Linked DNA regions of Homo sapiens. The protein of the gene in region 1 interacts with the protein of each later gene in a pairwise test. Each region holds a gene or a part of one and is shown in the gene's direction. Other genes may lie near its edges.

What was found.
Region 2: the proteins of HSPA12A (region 1) and M6PR interact in a two-hybrid assay, tested with the Homo sapiens proteins (one study listed by BioGRID and IntAct).
Region 3: the proteins of HSPA12A (region 1) and NRCAM interact in a two-hybrid assay, tested with the Homo sapiens proteins (one study listed by BioGRID and IntAct).

The regions. Positions count from the first base shown.
Region 1 is NC_000010.11:116,697,484-116,704,591, reverse strand, and holds part of HSPA12A (heat shock 70 kDa protein 12A), read left to right. Parts: intron 1-3,462; coding exon 3,463-3,649; intron 3,650-5,852; coding exon 5,853-5,957; intron 5,958-7,108. UniProt on the Homo sapiens protein: Adapter protein for SORL1, but not SORT1. Delays SORL1 internalization and affects SORL1 subcellular localization.
Region 2 is NC_000012.12:8,946,540-8,954,550, reverse strand, and holds the start of M6PR (cation-dependent mannose-6-phosphate receptor isoform 1 precursor), read left to right. Parts: upstream 1-4,905; 5' UTR 4,906-5,063; exon of another isoform or gene 5,064-7,496; intron 7,497-7,726; exon of another isoform or gene 7,727-7,835; intron 7,836-8,011. UniProt on the Homo sapiens protein: Transport of phosphorylated lysosomal enzymes from the Golgi complex and the cell surface to lysosomes.
Region 3 is NC_000007.14:108,187,343-108,194,450, reverse strand, and holds part of NRCAM (neuronal cell adhesion molecule isoform A precursor), read left to right. Parts: intron 1-22; coding exon 23-189; intron 190-279; coding exon 280-427; intron 428-2,597; coding exon 2,598-2,722; intron 2,723-3,167; coding exon 3,168-3,197; intron 3,198-4,704; coding exon 4,705-4,806; intron 4,807-7,108. UniProt on the Homo sapiens protein: Cell adhesion protein that is required for normal responses to cell-cell contacts in brain and in the peripheral nervous system. Plays a role in neurite outgrowth in response to contactin binding.

The DNA.
Region 1 (7,108 bases):
GGTACATGTGCACAACGTGCAGGTTTGTTACATATGTATACATGTGCCATGTTGGTGTGCTGCACCCATTAACTCGTCATTTAGCATTAGGTATATCTCCTAATGCTATCCCTCCCCACTCCCCCCACCCCACAACAGTCCCTGGTGTGTGATGTTCCCCTTCCTGTGTCCATGTGTTCTCATTGTTCAATTCCCACCTATGAGTGAGAACATGCGGTGTTTGGTTTTTTGTCCTTGCGATAGTTTGCTGAGAATGATGGTTTCCAGTTTCATCCATGTCCCTACAAAGGACATGAACTCATCATTTTTTATGGCTGCATAGTATTCCATGGTGTATATGTGCCACATTTTCTTAATCTAGTCTACCGTTGTTGGACATTTACATTGGTTCCAAGTCTTTGCTATTGTGAATAGTGCCGCTATAAACATACGTGTGCATGTGTCTTTACAGCAGCATGATTTATAATCCTTTGGGTATACCCAGTAATGGGATGGCTGGGTCAAATGGCATTTCTAGTTCTAGATCCCTGAGGAATCGCCACACTGACTTCCACAATGGTTGAACGAGTTTACAGTCCCACCAACAGTGTAAAAGTGTTCCTATTTCTCCACATCCTCTCCAGGTGCTGGCCCTTTCAAGTGAAGAGAAGTGCTGGGGTGTTGGTAGCCAGAGGCAAAAAGCACCTGCCAGAGAGAAGGCAGCATGAGGGGAATCTCAGCCAAGTGGCCCCATAGGCAAAGTTGCCCTGGGCCTCCTGGGATGCACTCTGTGCTGGGATGCCCCCTTCCCTTCCCCGCACACCCAGCACCCTGCAGGCCCCGGGTGCCACCCATCCATGGGATCCCAGTCTTGATCCATGATCTTCTTGCAGGGTATGACTCCTCGAATCTTTGGAAGCCCAGAATTTATCATCCCAATTTTCAATTCCAAGGGATGACTCTGAAGATACATTGTAATTGGCTTTGCAGTTTCTTCAACTGAGTAATTGTGGAATTTAGTATTGCTCCTAGATTAATATTTTTTAGTTTTGTTGTTGTTGTTATTTTTTTTTTTTTAAGAGACAGGCTCTTGTTCCTTTGCCCAGGCTGGAATGCAGTGGTGTGATCATGGCTCTCTGCAGCCTCAAACTCCTGGGCTGAAGTGATCCTCCTGCCTTAGCCTCCCAAGTGGCTGAGACTACAGGTGCATACCACCACACCCTGCTAATGTTTGTATTTTAGGAATTTTTATAAAGGGTTGTGTAAAGCACAAGTCATAATAAAAGTGACTCCCACCCCAATCTTGGTTTAAGTCTCACCTTTCCTCTTGAAAACCAGATGTGGCTCAGCCTGAAGCTCTTGTCCTAAGAGGGTACAGACACTCCTGGGTGTCATGTCATCAGGAAATGATGAAAAGCCGGTTCTATAGCCAACTCTGTTGACAGCATCGCCCTTGGTGTTCAGTTGCCACCAGGAATCTCTTTCCATTTAGCCAGACAGATGCTGTGAGGGTCTGTGCTGCCACCACTGACCCCCAAGATGAAAAATCCCAGTGGAAAAGAATATGCCATTAAAGGCTAGAATCAATGTTTATCAGCTTCTATGTAGTTGTTCTAAGAAATGTTATTTCCACAGAATAGTCATGCAGTGAAAACAGAAAAGAAGGAGTGGAAATAACTTTGAACTTGCTTGGGGAGGGGTACTTATGAAGCACCACCATAGTTCAGGGCCTCTAGAGGAGATACCTTAGTAATGGTCGACATTTTGGAGGGAGGTTGGTTGGTTCTACCTGAATTTTATTTCAATCAGAACATATTAGCATAATGATGCTAATATGACAAGTTATAAGTGAGAAAGTTAACTTTTTTTTGTACTAAGTGGGAATGAAGGAATAAAAATTTGAAGGGAAAAAGCTCATGGGGTCATTCTCTACTGATAATGTCACTGTTAATGACAATTCCATTTGTGAAGGGCAGTGTGTGGAGCAGCTGCCTGGCATCGGGGCCATCCCTGTGTCTCAGTGCGGTCACCTCGGGGACTTTGGCTGCTGGGGTAGGAGCAGCATCCTGATGGAGCTTGACAAGGAAATTGACCAGGGATGATTCCAGACCCATTTGAGCAGCAAATATCAGTGGAGGCCGGAGCTCCATCTGGACTGAGATGGTCCTACTGATGCTTAATGTCATGGGGTCGGGAGCAGGTCCGGGATCAGCTGGGAGCGTGGCCACCTCTCCAGTGGGTGAGGAAAGTGGCTCATTTTCCCTCCTGCACTGCGTCCCCACCTGAGGGCGCACGGGCTGTGCATGGGGTCACATGGCCAGCGGCAGGCCAGGAGCCAGGACCTGGTTGGGCAGGGAACAGCTTGGCCTCTTGGTGGCCCTGGCCTCTCTGCAGTGGCCCCAAAGGTGAGCGAATACATTGAGTTTCCTGTCTTCCCCTTCCCCCTTCCCTTGCTCTCACTGCAGCCTCTCTCTCTCTCTCTCTCTCTCTGTCATTTCTTTTTAGAGATAGGGTCTTGCTGTGTTGCCCAGGCTGGAGTGCAGTGATGCGATCATAGCTCACTGCAATCCTCCCACCTTGGCCCCCCAGAGTGCTGAGATCTGTTTCTATGGTTCTTTCACCTCTGCTCCAGGATAGGTCTGAGGCTCCTGGCTTCCCTTTCCCTCCATTTAGCCCAGTTTGCCCTTATGAACAGCAGCTCTGATTCTGTCATACCCCTGCTCTAAGACCTTTAGTGGCTTCCCATTATTCACAGAGTAAATGTCTAAGTCCCCAGGGTTCTCCTCAGCCTGATTCCAGCTGCTTTCCCAATCGTGTTTCTCACCCTTCCCATTTTCACAGTCACTCTTCCCACTCACATACTCTCTCCAACCAACGCAGTCACTTCACATTCTCCACGAATGCCCCGGCTGGCCCACCTCTGAGCAGCCTGGAGTATCCTTCCCTCCTTTGAGATCCAGTTGTCTGTCTCTTCTTCAGTTCTCCCCCGAATCCTGCATTCTTTCCTCTGCCCTACCAGCTGGCACCTTGGGCATCTCATTTGCATCTCATAAGGCAGGTAATTATGCATTTGTCTATACCTACCTTGTTTCAGACAGGATTCAAGCTAGCAGTATATCTGCTATTGAGTGCTTGCAAATAAAAAATACATTGCCTAGCAGATTGTGAATTATTTGAAGACACAGACATAAAAGTTTCATGCCAGCACCTGGCAAACATGTAGATGCTTAGAGTAGATGCTCAGTAAACATGGAATGAAAGACTAAGGCAGAGCTTGTTATTGACCAAGAACTTTGCACTTGCCCAGTTCATCTCCTTTTTAACTGAAGTTGTGTCTCTAGTAGCTGCTCATCCAGCTGAAGCAGAGTGCCTCTGGGCACCCACATTACTGACACTCATGCATACAGTAGGTGTTCAAATCTGTGCTGCCTGAATTGGGATTTTGAAAGAAGGCCCCATAACTTCTGCTTCCCTTGGTGGCAGGCGATGGGAGGGAGGTGACCCTGGTGTGTCCAATCAGAAGACTCCAACCACCATCTTGCTGACTCCCGAGAGGAAGTTCCACAGCTTCGGGTATGCCGCCAGGGACTTTTACCATGACCTGGATCCCAATGAGGCCAAGCAGTGGCTGTACCTGGAGAAGTTCAAGATGAAGCTGCACACCACTGGGGTGAGCAAGCCTCTCCCCTGGGCCCAGGTCCCCCGCAATGGAGTGCCAAGCTTCCTCCAGCCTTGGGGTGGGGAAGGGATGTCCTCCCAACCCAGGGGGCCCTCTGGTCTCTTCCAAGCAGAAATCAGTGTCCATTTACCTTGATTTTAGACACAACCTGGAGCACACAGTGCTTTTGTGGAATATGCGATGCTTTCCAATGTGCATGTGGGCAGGGAGATATTCTGAATATTTAACAACTCGTTTGTCTTGGAAATGGACCTATCAGAGTAGACCCTGGTTATACCAGGGAAGTGGGGTGCTGGGGCCCTCCTGCTGTGCCAGGAGTTCTCCCTTTAGTTTCTGGATTATTGAGAGATCAGTGTATCATGAAGGATCCACTTGGGGGCTAGGGACACATGGCGAGCTCAGGGCAGTAGCTCTTAACTAACCAGTTTGGATGTAACAACCAGTAACAACTGGTACATCCAGCTCTTTATGTGGGGAGGGGGAGCTCAGGACATCAAGTGCCCAATAATTGGAGGTCCAACTCCCTGAGTGGTGTCCTCAGCTCCCAGCAAGCCAGTGTTCCATAAGACACCTACATCAAACAGGCACCCCCTGCCACCCCGAAGCTTCGTAGAAAAGGATAGGGCATAGGACAGAACTTTTTTGAGTTAAGCATTTTATTCCATAAAGTTTCCTTAACTGTCAGTGCTTAGAAAGGCAGGATGATGATGATGTTTAAGAACACGGACTCTGGGGCCAGATGGCCTGGGTTTCAATCTGGTCACTGGTACCTTTGAGAAATGTAATCCAAGTTATGTAACCCCTCCCTGCCTTGTTTTATCTTCTCTGTCAAATGGAGACAATAGCAGTGCCTTCCTCATGGGGATTTTGTAGGGATTAAAGGAATCAAAATACGTAAAGCTCTTAGAGCCATGCCTGGTGCAGATTAAGTTCTAGTCAAGTGCAAGCTCCTATTCTAATTGCTTTCATTTGTCTGCTGAGCACTTGCAGATGACAAAGCAAACATAAGTGGGAAACTCAGCAGCCAGCACCCTGCCTTTCAAGGCTCTGTGCCCATCGGCGTGGTTGTCCTTCTATGGTGCAGACCAAGTTCTGCTAGAAATGAACTGTTCCTATTTTGCCTAATGGGATTCAATGCTGAGTATCAGGATGGCAGGTGGAAGGAAGCACAGGGATTTTTTTCAATTCAGAGCCATGGTTTCCTGGCACTTGACCACCTTTCTGAGCCTGGGAGCTGCTGCCCTAAAGCTGGGGTATCTTTGTTGGGCACCAGGAGCAGAAGGCAGCTGGCTGGGAGGAGTGAGCAAGTGCAGATAGGTCAGGATGCCACAGACGGGCTCCACATGGCTAGCTTAGTAACTCAATGCCCGTTTTCACTCCCAAGGCAAAGCATAATTACCCAGCCTGGGACAATCTGGAGGCCCCAGTGATTTTTTTCCCCCTGGCAGTAATGAGTTTGTTGGTTCAGGAGACCTGGGGGCTTCCTCCTGATTTTTGCTCTCACTCCCTGCCCATCCCTACCCCACAGGGACTTTTCTCATCATTTTTTAATGATCTCCGTCCACCAGCATCTAGGCTCTGCAGAGCATCCTCTCTCTGGGACCACACTCAGCAGCTGCTTTCACTTTTGGTGGAGAGAGGAAAGCAGTGATGCTGGGCTCCTGGCGGATTAGATAGGGCAAGCCTTAAAATAGGAGCTCTTCTATTTTGGTGACTTGGTTGGCAGCGTAATGGGGAATGAAAGCTTCGTCTGTTTAGCATCGTGGATGGCAGTGGGTTGGTACGATTAGGCCTCCATCAGGGGGGATCCTGAGCGTGACCATGTGTGTTCGAATGTGGAAATTGTACGGAAATTGCATGGGGAGTGGCACCTGCTGCCTATTCTCTCTTCCTGACTTCTACTGTTGCCCCTGAAACCTTTGCTCCCAGAGGATCCAGGAGCTAGAGGGAGAGAAGGAGGGAGCAGTGAAGGTGGGGCCTGGAGGGGACAGCCAGAGCCTCCTACACAGTAAGGGGACACTGCTGCCAGCCCCCATTTTGGGGGATGCGCCATCCTAGTCTGCCTCTTTAAGCATGGGGGAACACAGACATGGCTCACCAGGATCCTCTAGGTCCCCTTGGAGCAGTCCCCAAAGCCAGGAGACATGTTTCTCCTGTGTCATCTTCTTACTATTGTTCCTCTTCCTCCTACCAGGACCTCACCATGGATACAGACCTGACGGCAGCAAATGGCAAGAAAGTCAAAGCCCTTGAAATCTTTGCTTATGCCCTGCAGTACTTTAAGGAGCAGGCGCTGAAGGTAGGACTGATAGTTGAGGCCAGCCAGCTGTGTGCTAGGCGGTGGCACCCGTGCCAGCTCCGTGTCTCGGGCTGCTGCACCTGCTGGCCAGGGTAGGAGGCACAGCCTGGAGGGAGAGTGTGGGCTTTGGAGTCAACACAACAGGATGAACCCTCACACGCTGCTGGTGGGAAAGTAAAATGGTGCGGCCTCTTTGGAAAACAGTTTGGCAATTCCTAAAAAAGTAAAGCACAGAGTTACCGTAGGACCCAGCAGCTCCACTCCTGGGTGGAGAAATGAAAGAAATCCCTAAGAGAAATGAAAGAAGAAATGAAATCCCTAAGAGAAATGAAATCCCTAAGAGAAATGAAAGAAGATGTCCACACACACGTATACATGAATGTGCATAGCAACATTATTCATAACTGTGAAAAGTAGAAACAGTCCACATGCTGTCCACACAAACACACGTATACATGAATGTGCATAGCAACATTATTCACAACGACGAAAATCGGAAAAAATCCACATGCCCATCCACTGATGAATGGAGAAACAAAATGTGATCTATCTTACAATGAATGTTATTCAGCCAGAAACAAAATGTGATCTATCTTACAATGAATGTTATTCATCAGTAGGATGAACTACTGATACATCCTACCACATGGAGAAACCTTGAAAACGCCATGTGAAGTGAAAGAAGCCAGATACAGATAGCCACATAGCATGTGATTCCAGTTCTATGAAATGTCCAGAACAGGCACCTTCACAGAAACAGAAAGCAGAGACTTTTTCTGCGCAGGGCTGCAGGGAGTGGGAATAGGAGCGACTGCTGAAGGATATGAGTTTCTTTGAGGAGTGATGAAATTAGGTAATGGGGTTGGGCGCACAACCTTGTGAATATACGAAAACCCACTGAACTACACACTTTATAACTGGGAATTTTATGGTATGGAAATTATATCTGAGTAAAACAAAAAGAGAGGCAGGAAACATACTTAGCAGCTGTGCCATTTTGGTCAAGGTACTTAATCTTTCCAAGATCCACTTTCCTAACTGGAGAGTGGGGTGGGTAACTGTACCTCATAGGCCATTTGATAGAAAATGGGACTGGACATGCAGTGCCCTCCTTGGAGCTTGGTCTATAGTAAGCACTGGGTAAATGGTGG
Region 2 (8,011 bases), on another chromosome or scaffold:
AAACTTTTTAAAAATATACATTTGAGGCATACAAGATATTTTGATTGATACACATATACATAGTGAAGTGATTACTTCAGTCAAGCAAATTAACATATTCATCATCTCATGTAGTTATTTTTTTTTTGGTGGTAAGAGTACCTAAAATCTACTCTCCTGGCAAAGTACCAGTATACAATACAATATTAACTATAGTCCTTATGTTACACACTAGAACATTAGAATCTAACCGCAACTTCGTACCTTTTGACCTACATCTTCCCATTTCCCCTACCCCGCCCCTGGTAACCATCTTCCTACACTGTTTCTATGGTGATTTTTTTCAAGACTCCACATACAACCGATATCATATCATATTTTTCTTTCTGTGTGTGTCTTATTTCACTCAGCATGATGTCCTCCAGGTCCATTCATGCTGAATGCTACAAGATAAAATCGGAACATCTTATGTGCCTGAAAGTAAAGAATTCCTCAAAAAATCATATGGACATGTCAAAAGGATAAAGGAGGCACCACTAAAAGGCTCCCACTGGCTGCTCAACAGAGGCCCACACCCTCCCGCAACTTCTCGGCCTCATCAGTGGGTGGACTGCATGTTCCTGTGGTAGGAAACACACCCTCCCCTCAGAGATCTGAATCTCTAATCTTGCAGGTGGGGAAGGGAGCATTTCCTTTAACTTAAGTAACTCCTTTATTAACTCTTCTTCAGCCCTAGAAGTAACAGCTCCTTTTCGTAGCTGCTTCTTCTGTATCATAGAGTCCTCTTTTAGTAACTGATCATCTTTTACTAGAAAATAATTCTTTAAATTTTTCCTGTTAAAATCGCCAATATGATATCTGTTTCTGAATGGACCCTGATTGATATAAAAACGTATCACTTCCCTTGCATTTCTATCCAAAAAAAATGCAAACTTAAATATAATCATGAGGAAATGATAGCCGCAGGAGGCAGACAAATGCCTAGGCAGATCCCCAGTGAAACCCCATCTCCAAGCTGAAGACAGTTTAAAGCCTGAAAGCCAAGCTACAAGTCAAATCCATGGACCGGATTAAAAACCTGTCTTCCCATTTGGCACATTTTTCTTTGATTGATCCCCACCTTTCACCCATTTTATATACACCTACCCTTTCCTAATTGGTTTTCTACACTGTCGTGCCCACCTTTGAGTGGTGTCTTCACTTTAACTGTTTTTGCATACTCACAAACCAATCAGCACACACTTTCCATTCTGAATCCATAAATGCCCAGACCTAGCCACATTGGGTGAGAAACCACCTGACTGCAGGGGTGGGGGACCACCTCCACCTACCACATCCCCTCTCCGCTGAGAGCTGTTCCATCGCTCAATAAAATTCTTCTCCATCCTTCTCATCCTTCAAATTGTCAGCATATCCTCATTCTTCTTGGATGTGGGACAAGAGTTCAGGAACCACCGAATGCAGATACAAACTATAACACAGGCAGCAGGTCAAGTGAGGCCTGGGGGTTTTGCGGGGGGGGGGTGTCACTAGCTATGGACGGGTCCCTGGTTGGCAAAGTGACCGAGAAAAATCCTACATCAGATATATCAAACAAAACCAAAATGAAAGACATTCTACAAAACAAGTGGCCAGTACCTATCAAAATTTCAAAGTCAAGTAAGATCAATGACAACTAATTACAATGTGTGACTCTGGCTTGGCTCCTGTGATTGTTGGGAAATCGGAAGTAACTATACATAGCATCTATTGAAACGTGATAAAATTTTGAATACAGACTATGGATTTGGTAATATTGTATTAATACTGTAGTTCCTGATTTTGATGAGAGGATGTCCTTGTTTCTAGGAAATACACACTGATATATTTAATGGTAATGGAAGTTTACTCTCAACCTGTTCAAAATAAACTAATGTATATGGAGGGGAAAAAGATGAATTTAGGTAAAATGTGTACCAGAGTTCTTTGTATTATCCTTGCATCTTCTCTATAAATGATAAATATATTAAAATTGAAAGTTACCAAAAACTATATTTAGTCCTTGAAATATGGAAAACATGATCATTTTGAAAAGCATCTGAGCCGGGCTCAGTGGCTCACACCTGTAATCCCAGCATTTTGGGAGGCTGAGGCAGGCAGATTATTTGAGTTTAGGAGTTCAAGACAAGCCTGGGCAAAAATGTGAGACCCTGTCTCTACAAAAAATACAAAGATTAGCTGGGCATGGTGGCTTGCGCCTGTGGTCCCAGCTACTTGGGAAGCTGAGGTTCTAGGACTGTTAATTACCTTCCTCTCTTATGATTATACAGAACAGGAGGCATCCTTCCCATTTGATTTCAGACCAACAATCCTAGAACTGCTTTCTAAACAAGGTGAACAATTTACCTTGTGTGAGAGAAGGCAGTGTGGGTGTAGGTTTATTGTGGGGAGTGTGCTTGTTAATAATGAGGCTAAGAAAGGAGGCAGGCCAGAAATGCAAACAAACAAACAAAAAAAAATTCTGCTCATTTCAATTTTTGCCCCAGCAAGAACCTTGAGCTCAGTTCTCAGAGGTGAGAATTCTAACACAGAAAGCACCCAGAAAGGGCACTGAGGTCTGAGAAGCAAGGAAGTGACCCAGGTTGTTTGCCTCTGGTCGGAAAGGGAAACTACCCCTGCTTCCACTCTGACAGCAGACAAGTTAATCAACCTACTCAATTGCATTTTTGGCCCATTCCCCATTTCCAACATGAACAGTTCCTCCCCTCCAGCCCAATGCCACTCTAGGCAGTCACCAAGAGGTAAGATTTCTGAAATCAAAACTTGAATTAACCAACAAAGGAACATCAATTCTAGAACGGATTGTAACAGGGATTTTTGTCTTTTTTCTCTGCTGTATCCCCAAGATCTATATTATATATTCTGTGGTTTTGGCACATAGTAATTGCTCAGTAAAGCTGTGTTGAGTTACTTGATAAAAAATAAGTCAGTAGAAATAACTTAAATGCTCAACATTAATGTCATTGGTTAAGTAGCAATGCATAGAACTAAATATTATGCTATTAAAAAGTTTATTTGTAAAGTCAAGGATATGGAAAAATATTTGATACATACATATCTTTTTGAGATAGGTTCTCACTCTATCACCAAGGCTGGAGGGTAGTGGCAAGACCATAGCTCACTGCAGCCTCCAACTCCCAGGCTCAAGCAATCTTCCAGCCTCAGGCTCCCAAGCAGCTGGGACTACAGGTGTGCACCACCAAGCCCAGCTGATTTTTTTTTTTGAAAGAAGGGGTCTCACTATGTTGCCCAGGCTAGTCTTGAATTCCTGACCTCAAGTGATCCTTCTGCCCCGGAATCCCAAAGTGCTGGGATTACGGGCATGAGCCACAGTGTGGGACTGATACATTTTTGAAAAAAGGAAACAACATATATTCATGAAGGAAATACACACCCTCCTGGTGAGTTTATGTATGATTTTTGTTTTGTTGTTTTCTGTGTTATCTGATCACAAATTACTTTCATTTTCAGGAAGAAAAAAATTTAATTTTTTTTTTTATTGGGGCAACATCCAACCCAGATATGATTACTACCTAGCCTGAACTGAATGTATTACTAATAAACAAAGAAATGCAGAATGGCATACAGTCGGTAAAGCGTAGTGCTTGAGAGCATGGATTATGGAGACTATTTAAATACTGGCTCCATAACTTAATAGCTTGGGACCCACGGTGTTACTTAGCTTCTATCTGCTTTAATTTACTCATCTGTAAACTTGGGATAAGATACTTCCTCATAAGGTTGGTGTGAAGACCAAGTGAATTAACTATCGTTTAAAGCACTTACAAAAGTGCCGGGCACCACCGAGATATGCATCCGTTAGCTTTTATTATTATTAGACTCAAAACACTGTAGTAGTTCTAATGAGAGGGGTAAGAATCAAAAATCCAGGCACCTGCATAGAGCCAGAGAGGCACACATAGAAGCAACGTAAGAGTGGAAGCGGAATGAAAACATGCTAAAGCCAGGTACAAGCCACAAGCGAGGGTCCACAGGAAGAAATTGTTAATTCTGAAGAGAGTGAATGCACGAAGTTACAGGAAAAATAACATCTGAACAGAGTTTAAGAATGAGCAGGACTTCAACAAGTGGCTAGTAAGACATAAGGAACCTACAAAAGATCTTAGCAAAGGCGCAAAGATTACCATCGTATTGCTCGTTTCTTCCTACTTTGCAGAAGTAACCTCTGGCGAACAGAGGTGGTTGCAGAGCATGCTTATCAAGCAAAATACCACGAAGCAGTAAGGAACGACAGAGATAACAGTAACAATAATAATTCACCCCAAGGTACTCAACTGGAAAAAGGAAATACAGAGGAGAGGTGTCGTTAAGAAAGCCAGGACGCACATCACGGCCCCGTCGCTGCACTACTCTCGTCTAGGGGTCAACAGTGGAGTCGAGACTCGAAGCTTCCACGCGGCGGAACAGCGTCCCTCTCAGGCGGCGAACGGGCTAGGGAAGCGCCCGGAGGAGACCTAGCGTGAGAACTACAACTCCCGCGGAGCCCGAGGGCGAGCTGCCTGCGTAACTTCCGCTTCCGCCACCTGCCCCTCTCACCCTCTTCACTCGAACCCTACCCGGGAGCGGTCAGGCGCGTGACCCCGCGTGACCGGGGTGCGCGAGCCGAGAGGCCCTGGAAGCGGGACTCTGGGACCCCATTGAAAGAAAGGCAACCAGAAAAGGCGAAACGACAACCTCGATAGTGATTGGAGCTGATGGAACGAGGGCGGAGCTAAAGTCCCAGAATACTGGCCAATCAGAGTTTAAGATTATCAGGGAGCCCGGGAAGGGGAAAGGGGCGAAATGGTTCTATGGTCACATGCCGCGGGGTCTGGTGGGAGGAGCGGTTGCCCAGCGGCCTCTTGGCGCTTCCTGTTTCCGGTTCCCAGAGTGGGGCACAGCGAGGCGCTAGGGGGAACGCTGGCCTCTGAAACTAGCTCTGGGACCGGGGTCTGCGGCCGGCCCCTAGCTGGCCCCGTCTCCCATCCCCAGAAGGGTATTCACTGGGGATTCTGAGCTTTGGCTACTCCAGTTTCCCACGACACGTGAGTGTGAGGGGCGTGGAGGAGGAGGCGGGCTGGGTTGCGCTCACACTTAAGCGTCTGTGACAGGAGCCGGAATCGCATTCTCCCTTGACCATGGTTCTAGCCAAAGATCTGGCTGAGGAGCCCTAAGGGTAGAATGGAGGCGGAGGCATGAGAGCGGAGAGTCACGGAGTTCCGAAAGGTGTGAGGGAGAAAGGACTTCCAAGACCAGAGAGGGGATTTACGATATTTAGAAAGCAGGGAAAGGAAAATACCCCAAGTATGGAGTCCGTTGGAGGTGTTGGTGGATTTATTTGTAGGAGGAATTTTGGCCTGCATCACGGTGGGAGGTCAAGTGGCATCATTTGGAGAGGGTATGGCTACAAGCGCTTGGAAAGTCGGGACACTAGACAGAGCGAGAATTTCTGGCACCCTGGGAGAGCTTTGAGGGGGATGCGACTGTGGTGTGGATAAGAATGGCTGATGGACGGATTATCTTGTGTTCCTCGTTGTGGGGAGCTTCCGCTCTTGGGACATAGCCGCTACTTGTCTGAGGCTCCTTCTCTCTTGAGTTCTTTCAGCATTAGGCCTTTTAGCCAATTGAGGCTGCTTTTCTAAACATGTAGGCTGCTGGAGAAAAAGGGATAAGGACTGCTACATCAGAAAGGAGCCAGCGGGAAGACAGTAGAAATTCCACTGGTAAATGGCCATGGCTGTCTTAACAGATGGGGAAGTGAGTGCTACAGAGGCCCAGTGGTGTAAGCTGCTTCCCAGTTGCTGGCTTAGTCATTGGCCACCCTAATAAAGGATAATTTTTAGCATTGCCAAATAAAATAGATCTGTCGTTAGAGAATAAGAAAACTGAAAGATTTTTCAAGATCATAAAATCCTGCTCCTTATTTCCAAAGTATATAGACAAACTCTTGTACCTTGAGAATCTAATTGTAGCATATTAAAAGGGGGCTACTGGGCCCTTCCATTTCATTCTCTTCCTGATTGTTGCACCCCTATGTTTATAAGTTTTCCAGCAGTTATCTTTATGCCACGAATCGTCTAAATTGCCCCAGTAACTTCACACACATTTAATATCTGTGTAATGTACAGCAAGTAATTTAACAAGTAATTCTGTAAAGCATCAGTTTTCTCATCTGTGAAGTATGAAAAATTATACCTATTTTCTGGGTTGTGAAGATGAATGAACATAATCTAGGGAAAACATTTAGCGCATATGCCACTGAATTAAAGAGAAGCAGCTTAAATTTAAAGACAAGCCTTAAGCAGGAAAGAAGAATACAGTATAAATTTATTATCCTAACTTTTTGAATAATAAGCAAATGAAAGATAGTTCAACTCAGCTAATGGCTGAGGTGTTTAACCTTTCATCCCTTCCTAATTTTGTGAGATTCCTTGTTCTAATTTAGGAAAAGAAATCAACTGTCAGTTTTTAATTAGGTCCTGAGAGACTGGAAAGGAAAATGGCAGGCTAAGTCAGTCTAGAAGAAGGAGTCTCCTATTTCTTTTTAGTGAGTCAGCTGGTCAAGTTGTGTGTTGAGCAGTGGGTTAACTTAGGGAAGGTGGGAGTTGGAGGTCTGAGTTCTTTATTTCACCTCCTATTCAGTCAACTGTGTGAGGAATCACTTCCCCTTCACTTCTTAGTAGAAAAAAAAAAAAACCCACAGTTTTGGCTGTCTACTCTCATCTCCAAAAAATTGTTATGCACATAGTGGAAATATACATGTAGTTGTTCAACACAGACCATGAGCTCTGGAGCTAGACTCTCTGGCTCACTCCACTAGCTGTGTCTCAGTTTTCTTACTGGTAAAATAGCAACAATAATTGTATTTACTCATAAGGTTGTGAGGATTAATTAGTTAATTAATATATGTTAAGTGCTTTGAACAGCACCTGGCCCAAGGCAGTAGTCTGTTGTTTCCTGCTGTTGTGTGGTTTCAGTGCATTAAATGTGTTATGAGGGCCTTGGACCTCTTGGTTAGCTATGATTATTCTATGGAAACTACCATAATATTACAGTAGAGAATTGATGTTTGGGGTACAGGAAGTCAGGTAGACAATTTCCCGGGATTTTTTGCTTTAGTGGGGTGTGGGAAGTGGAAGGTCAGATGTTAGGTTGTTTAGGGGAATGGGGAAAGTGCATTCACGGCCAAGGTTGGAGCTTCCATTTTCCCATCTTCAAACTCATTAGTACCCATGAAAATTCTGCCTGTTTCAAGTTTTATATTTTAAAAATGAGGTGGAGTAAGTGGACCCGCATGAAAAAGAACTAGAGAACTTTAAAGAATATTCAAACCAAAGTCCAGACTTGCAGCGTTTTTTGTAAGTGAGAAAAGTTTAGAAGAGTTAAATCAGGAAATTGTCCGTGATACTCTTGGAATAAACAAGTAGCAATGGCCTGAGGGATCATTAACAGATACCAGAGTAAAGTGTTTTGCAAGGGTAAGTCAGTCTGTCCTGGGTATGAAGATGGATAAGAGAAAAGAAAATGTTAGGTTTTGGTGGGGTTTTTTTGCCAAAACCACAATGACCTTTGCACCAGTCTAGTAAGTTTGGGAAAGAGAGCTGTCTGTGTGTTTTCATTCCTAGAGCAGTACAAGCAGCAGGTGCATTGAATTTACTCAATTGTAAAGTGGCTTGGTGATCCCCAATTTGTTGTCATTGATTTGTAGTGTAAAAGACAACTGTACTTATGGGAAGTCTAGAAACCCTTGAGATTTGTGACCTGTAGAGGCCAAAGAGGTTTCAGAAGACTACATCAAGCCATCAAACAGTAAAGAGGCAAGGATGGCTCCACCCAAGCTGTCATCATTCTTTTTTAAGTTCTTTCATTTCCCTCTTCCCAACTTTGTAGTTTGTTCTGAAAGACTCACCTATACATTAGACTACAAGTTACATATAAATGAATTTTCTGCTGCAGATGCTCTTGTTACAGAGATATTAAAATGTACTATGTG
Region 3 (7,108 bases), on another chromosome or scaffold:
TGTGATAATTTCTGTAATGAAGGTTTAAAGGAGCTAAAGGAAGTGCTCTTCATGAAGATATTTATGTTTTACATGAAAATGGAACTTTGGAAATTCCTGTGGCCCAAAAGGACAGTACAGGAACTTATACGTGTGTTGCAAGGAATAAATTAGGGATGGCGAAGAATGAAGTTCACTTAGAAATCAAAGGTAAGGCAGAGGTAATGTGTTTAATTTTTAAATGACTTTGAACAAATTCTCCAGCTTTGCCAAATGGATAACGATGACTCTACATTTCAGATCCTACATGGATCGTTAAACAGCCCGAATATGCAGTTGTGCAAAGAGGGAGCATGGTGTCCTTTGAATGCAAAGTGAAACATGATCACACCTTATCCCTCACTGTCCTGTGGCTGAAGGACAACAGGGAACTGCCCAGTGATGAAAGGTATTTGAAGACGATTTCTTTACTTTCTCTTCATTCTTTCTTTAAGCTATTCTTGAACTAAAGGTCTACTATGTAGTCAATTATGGTGATGTTTTTAGTTTCTGAAGTCTGCTGTCTCCAAAATAGAGAGATAAGCATTTTCTCCCTACTGTAAAATATATGCACCCAAGAAGGTATCAGGTGATTGAAATAGGACCCTGAGAATGTTTGTCTATCTTTGCGTGCTGGTCTCTTGTGTAATTCAGGATGGGAAAAAACCCTCAGGCCTGGACAGCATCCATTGTTTTATACCTTGAACAGCGAAGTCTCAACAGATGTTTTCATTACCTTTCTACAAATAAGCAGAAATATGACCTCTTTAATCACCAAAGACTGCTCAAATCCTTGTCAGTATTTTAAGACACTCGTTTTTATTTGGATAGGGAGTTTTTCTTTTGATTTTACCTAAAGCCAGTGAAAGGGGAAGGAAAAACAAAAACAGGTAGAGCATTTAAAAGAGCCCAAGCATGCTGCAGATTTCATTAAGAATGGAAGAAAGGTCATGGCATTTTCCAGATGAGACCCTCAATTTGACATAGTAGTACAGAGTAGATATGTGTTAGTTTTAGCAAAGTGGCTATAGGCCTCACTCTCTATTAGAAGGAATGCTGTATTCTGGTCGAAATCATTTGTGTGGTTCACCTACAGCTGACCTAAAATTGTGGTGCCTAAATATTGCCCTGTTGCTTGTCAATGACCCTGGAAGAACTCTGTGGCCTTCTCTTTTATGTGCCTAGAGTCTCCATCTAATTTTATGCTTGAACTAGTCAATTTTATTTGTTGAGTTGATAAAGATGAAAAGGTGTGGTGGTCTCACACCTGTGGTCCCAGCTACCTGGGAGGCTGAGGTGGGAGAATTACCTGGGCCCAGAAGGTTGAGACTCCAGTGAGCCATGACTGTACCACTGCACTCCAGCCTGGGTGACAGAGTGAGACCCTGTCTTTAAGATTAAAAGGAAACATAAAGAAATGACCATCAGGTTAAGGTGGCTGAAGCTTTTACTTGGAAATTAACTGAGAAGACAGTTTATGACTTAGGCAGTTTCATTAAAATAATACACTAATTCTCTATACATTAATTTTTTGATCTACTGAGCAATTTTTCATGCCCACAAGTTCCCTCTAGAAAAGTCTTAGAGAGATTGTTCATCTAAATCTTCCTGTTTCTAGTGATAAAGCAAATTATTATTCTTTGCATTTAATTTCTCCTATGAGAGTTTATACATGTAAGAAAATGACATGATTTTCTGCAGTAAATAATAAAGTATTTAAAATATATACTTTGATAGAAATTGAACTGAATGAGTGGTTTTCCAATGTTTCTTGGCAGCAAAAGCCTTAGTAAAGCCCTTTAGTAAGGCTAATGCTGGAACTATTCTTCGCCTCCTTCCCCTGGGAACTTAAGGAAGCTCCTTCCTCTCCCTCTAGAGCAGTGGTCCCCAACCTTTTTGGCACCAGGGACTGGTTTCATGGAAGACAGTTTTTCCACGGACAGGGTGGGGGCACAATGGCTTCAGGATGATTCAAGCACATTACATTTACTGTGCACTTTATTTCTATTATTATTATGTTGTAATATGTATATACATATATATATTATTACATGTAATATATACAGTGACAGATCATCAGGCATTAGATTGTCATAGGAGAGCACAGTCTAGATCTAGATCTCTCACTTGCACAGTTCACAATAGGGTTCACCTTCCTGTGAGAATCTAATGCTGCCACTAATCTGACAGGAGGCGGAGCTCAGCTTCACTCGCCCCATTCCCCTGGGGCCTAAGGAAACTCCTACCACACCCTCTAGAGCAGCGGTCCCCTCTGCAGCCCAGTTCCTAACAGGACAGTACCCAGTTCTTGGCCCAGGGTTTGGGGACCCGTGCTCTAGAGGCCTGGTTGAAAAATACTGTGCCAGAGGACATATCCCTTCTAACCCAATATTCTAATTGATTCTCATTGTTTTTCAACTTTAATCATTCTTAAAGTGATATGTATTTTGCTCTAACTTTTGAAAGTGTTTACCATCTTTCTCCTTTATCAAATTTACAGTTTTTTTCCTGCCAGTGAAGCAATTATAGGGTACGGCTGCATGTCCATTTCAGCTGCTCTGAATGCATTCTATCCACAGGTTCACTGTTGACAAGGATCATCTAGTGGTAGCTGATGTCAGTGACGATGACAGCGGGACCTACACGTGTGTGGCCAACACCACTCTGGACAGCGTCTCCGCCAGCGCTGTGCTTAGCGTTGTTGGTAAGAACGAAAACAAAAATAGCACAACTGGCTTCCCTGCATTTGGTTGAAAAGAAAAAATAAGATAAAAATTATAAATATCAAATATTTGCTTGTTAATATGCATGGGTGAGTTCATACCCATGTTTTTCTTCTTTGAAAGATGCCTTGGAGGCAATAATTTCAGTATAAATAGACTGTGTAGCAGCACTGGGTGAAATGGTGGATATGCACATTAGTAACCTTTTTTGTAATAAAATAAGGAGAAATGATCTACTTGTATCTAAAATTGAAGGTTTTTTTTCCTAAATTGTTACTGCATGTTTATCAATGCTGTGTCTCACAGCTAAGCATAGGGCTTAATTTTATAACCTTGAATAATGTACAGTCTTTGTCATCTTGTGCTATCTTGTATCTTTCCATTACTAATTTTGATTAAAATCCTTTATATTAATGTCCTTTCTAGCTCCTACTCCAACTCCAGCTCCCGTTTACGGTAAACTAATATGAGTCTTCTTTCTCTGTTTTCTGTCAAACAATTTCACATTTGCAGAAAGTATTCATAACTTTCTTTTCTATGTCACATAATTGTGTTTCTTAAGGAAAAGGTCTCTGTCAGTTGTTATGTTGTGTCACCCATTTACTGACAATGAATCATTTCTTCATCATAACCACAGATTTTTCACCAAGTTCGTTGCCAGTTCTTTCTAAATAGTTCATGTGCTATTATAAAATCACTTCGTTTGATAAAAGTCCCTCTTTGATGCAATTTCCTTTTAAAGTAGCATAGTGCTTTTTCAAAAGCCATCATCCACATTTTACAGAATGAAAAAGCTATTTCTAATATCATTCTACAAATTAGGCTTTCATCTCAATTTATTAAAAGTTGTTTGGGAAAAATCTTGTTTTGGGATTCCATTTTCAAGAAATGTATATGGGGAAAAATAGATGTTTAGAACAACATTTAACTTTTATATCAGAGAAAACCGACTCACCATGTGTTAACAAAAGACAAATCACTCAAGAAAGACCAAAAGGAGGGGCACATTTATGTTGTGTGGCTTTTTAGAATCTGGAAAATAAGTCAGAAATCATTTCCAGAAATCTTTTTATTTAGAGAACCTTCATCTTTATTCAGTACGTCAATACAAAAATCAATTTTTGGCATCTCAGCTGATTTTGCACAATATTATTAATATTGTGTCTAATTATCCAATATAAAACCTGTGCTTTGTAGACATTTACTGCTTTATGACTGATAAGAAAAAAAAGCACATATATTTGTATGGTCTCTGGTCCCCTAAGAGCCAGAGATACTCCTAGGAGCAAGGTCAAATAAAGGCCTGGGGGGAACAGTAACTCTCTGGATCTCAGAAGCACCATTAGAAGAGGCAGACATGCTTCTAGGACACCTTCATCTCGACATGTGTCTGTCTATACACTGTTGTCCTCTGGGAGTAAACACACTTATGCATGCTGAGGGCTACCTCCATAGCATCTATTTCAGCATTCTTTCGCAAATATAAATATTCTTTCAGAGCCCCAAAATCTGTTATTCAGCATTTTTTTTAGAAAGAACATTTGAATTTTCTTTAAACAGCACCTTTTATTTGCCTGTATTTCTTTTTTCAGCAGTTGCTTTCTCTATTTCCCATGTATTAGAAATTAAGCTTATTATTTTTCATGTTTGTGCCCATTCATGTTTATGAGAAGAAACGCTGAGAGTGCTGATGAACCACATGTGTCTGCTTCACTGGGTTTGGTTACAAATGCTTTCGTTTCCTTTGAAAAACAAGTGAGCAGAACTCATTGATGGGTTATCTTGTGTGTGTTCGTGTGTTCCCAGCAGCCTCAGCTGTGCACATTTCCTTTCAGTTGCATGCTCATTGACTATCAAGTGTGCTGTGTCTTTAAGATGTCCCCTCTGTGAATAGTATCACGAGTAAAGGAGAGCCTCTTAAAGATGGATGCGTGACCATGATGTGTGTATGTTTGGTCTACAGATGTCCCAAATCCTCCCTTTGACTTAGAACTGACAGATCAACTTGACAAAAGTGTTCAGCTGTCATGGACCCCAGGCGATGACAACAATAGCCCCATTACAAGTATGTGGTATTATTTGCTCTATTTCCGATCAACTAAATGGCCATGTTTGAAGCACTTTGTAACAGTCAGCTGAATTTCCTCACAAAGGTATTTACTGGGATTCTCTGCTTCATTACTGATAGAATAAAAATATTTATTTATGTCCTTCCTCTCTTCAGAGCTGAAACTATTCCTGGTTACACCTTCTAGAATAGGACACCCCTTAATTGCTGAAGATGTTGACTAATCAAATACACTGTCATTTGTGTTTAAGATCCATAAAAATCACTTTAAATATCTACCATGTAGGAAGATACACCTTAAGTTAGTTGTTTATTTTGCCCATTTCTTCTGGGAGAAAATGTTAGGAGGAGCAAGTGCTGAATAGCTCTGTCTTCCTATTAGGAAACTGATACTTGATGAGTAAAGTAACTTTTCAACCCCCTGTTGGTAACAGAACTGGGCGTAGATAACAGGTTCTACCTTAACTTCCAACCTAGGTCTCTTTCTTTCCATTAGTCCCTGCTACAAAGTTGCCCATTCAACAATGTGAGCTTCTCACGTTGGTGACACAAGCCTAGGGCCTAGGAAATAAGATAAGGAAGGACAATGTCATAAGGATACTAGAAGAGCATAATAAAATTAGACTATAGGTAAGCTTCGAAGTTGAATTGTAAAACCAAAGAGATACTTAAGAGGCAGACACAATCAGGTCACATGCCTGAAATACATTATTACCTTCAGGCATATACCGCAGGAAGACAATTCCTTTCTGATGACTACCTAAGATGATTCTGAAATGATAGGTGTGTTGATTTATTGCACCTCCTGGTAAAGTAGAATATTTCCACTAAAATTTAACAAAAGCCCCTCCTCTATCTTGTGTTGTTTAATGGTGCTCTTTTCCCTACTTGAGTGTTCAATGTCCTTGATCAGAACACAAATTCATCCAGGCCCAGTCTTCTAGCTCATTGGGTACATTAGCCAGAGTTAGCTGGTTAGATGGCTTGGAGACTCTTTTTTCCTATATTAAAATAATACCATTAGATTTCAAGGCATTTCTACTCTTTCATTCATTTACTCATTCATTCAACAGATATTTTTGAGTGCCTACTGTGTGCCAGACATTGTTCTAAAACAAAATAGTCAAAAATCTCTGTGGTAATGGAGCTTATATTTTAGATGAGGATATAAATAAGATAAAATTAATAATACATTATTAAGCATAATTTCATTATATCTGCATGTAAACATATGTATATATACACACACACACACACACACAGAGGACTCAGATCTACCTTCAAGGGCGAACCTGCTGTAAGGAGTGTTAACCCACAGCCTCCATCTGCTTCTCCTTCTCTAAGGCTCCACTGCAGAGTTCACGTGAGGCCATGCTCCTTGGGGTGCTCCAGTGACTGGGCACAGCAAAGGTCCCAGAAGTCACACGTGCCTAATGCAGAACTCCTCCTGTGTAGACTGTACTCTGGGCTCCTGGTTGACCTGGCTGAGACTATCCCAGAGCTATACTATACTGTAGTCTGAGGCTTCTTCTACTCACTCCTCCTTCCCTCCCCCACTTCCTGTTACAGATGTCAGACCAGCATTGTGGTCTGAAGGTCTTCCCTCCTTCAGGCTTCCTTGCTTCCTCTCCCTTTTTTCTTCCATGGACATTTTCCCAAATAGACCTCTTGCACTTCTTTTTTTTTTGAGACGGAGTCTCGCTTTGTTGCCCAGGCTGGAGTGCAGTGGCGCGATCTCGGCTCACTGCAAGCTCTGCCTCCCGGGTTCACGCCATTCTCCTGCCTCAGCTTCCCGAGTAGCTGGGACTACAGGCGCCCGCCACCACACCCGGCTACTTTTTTTTTTGTATTTTTAGTAGAGATGGGGTTTTGCCGTACTAGCCAGAATGGTCTCAATCTCCCGACCTCGTGATCCACCCGCCTCGGCCTCCCAAAGTGCTGGGATTACAGGCGTGAGCCACTGCGCCCGGCCACCTCTTGCACTTCTAATTCTGTCTTAGCCTTTGCTCCCTAGAGGACTCAAACTCATATATATCTATTAATACATATGACTGTGTTTATATGTGTTTAGGGCATGCAAAAAACAAATCAGCAGAAAGACATGTGGAGCTAGGGGTATAATTGTGAATAGTGTGAATAGGAAAGGCCACACTAAAAGAACATTTGAATGTGTCAATCAAGACAGGGGAGGGAGGTCAGTGAGCACACTATGCAGTTGTCTAGGGGAAGAACTTTCCAGCAAGAGCAAAGGAAAAGAGCAAAGGCCCTAAGACAGGGCATGTCTGCTAGGATGCCAGTG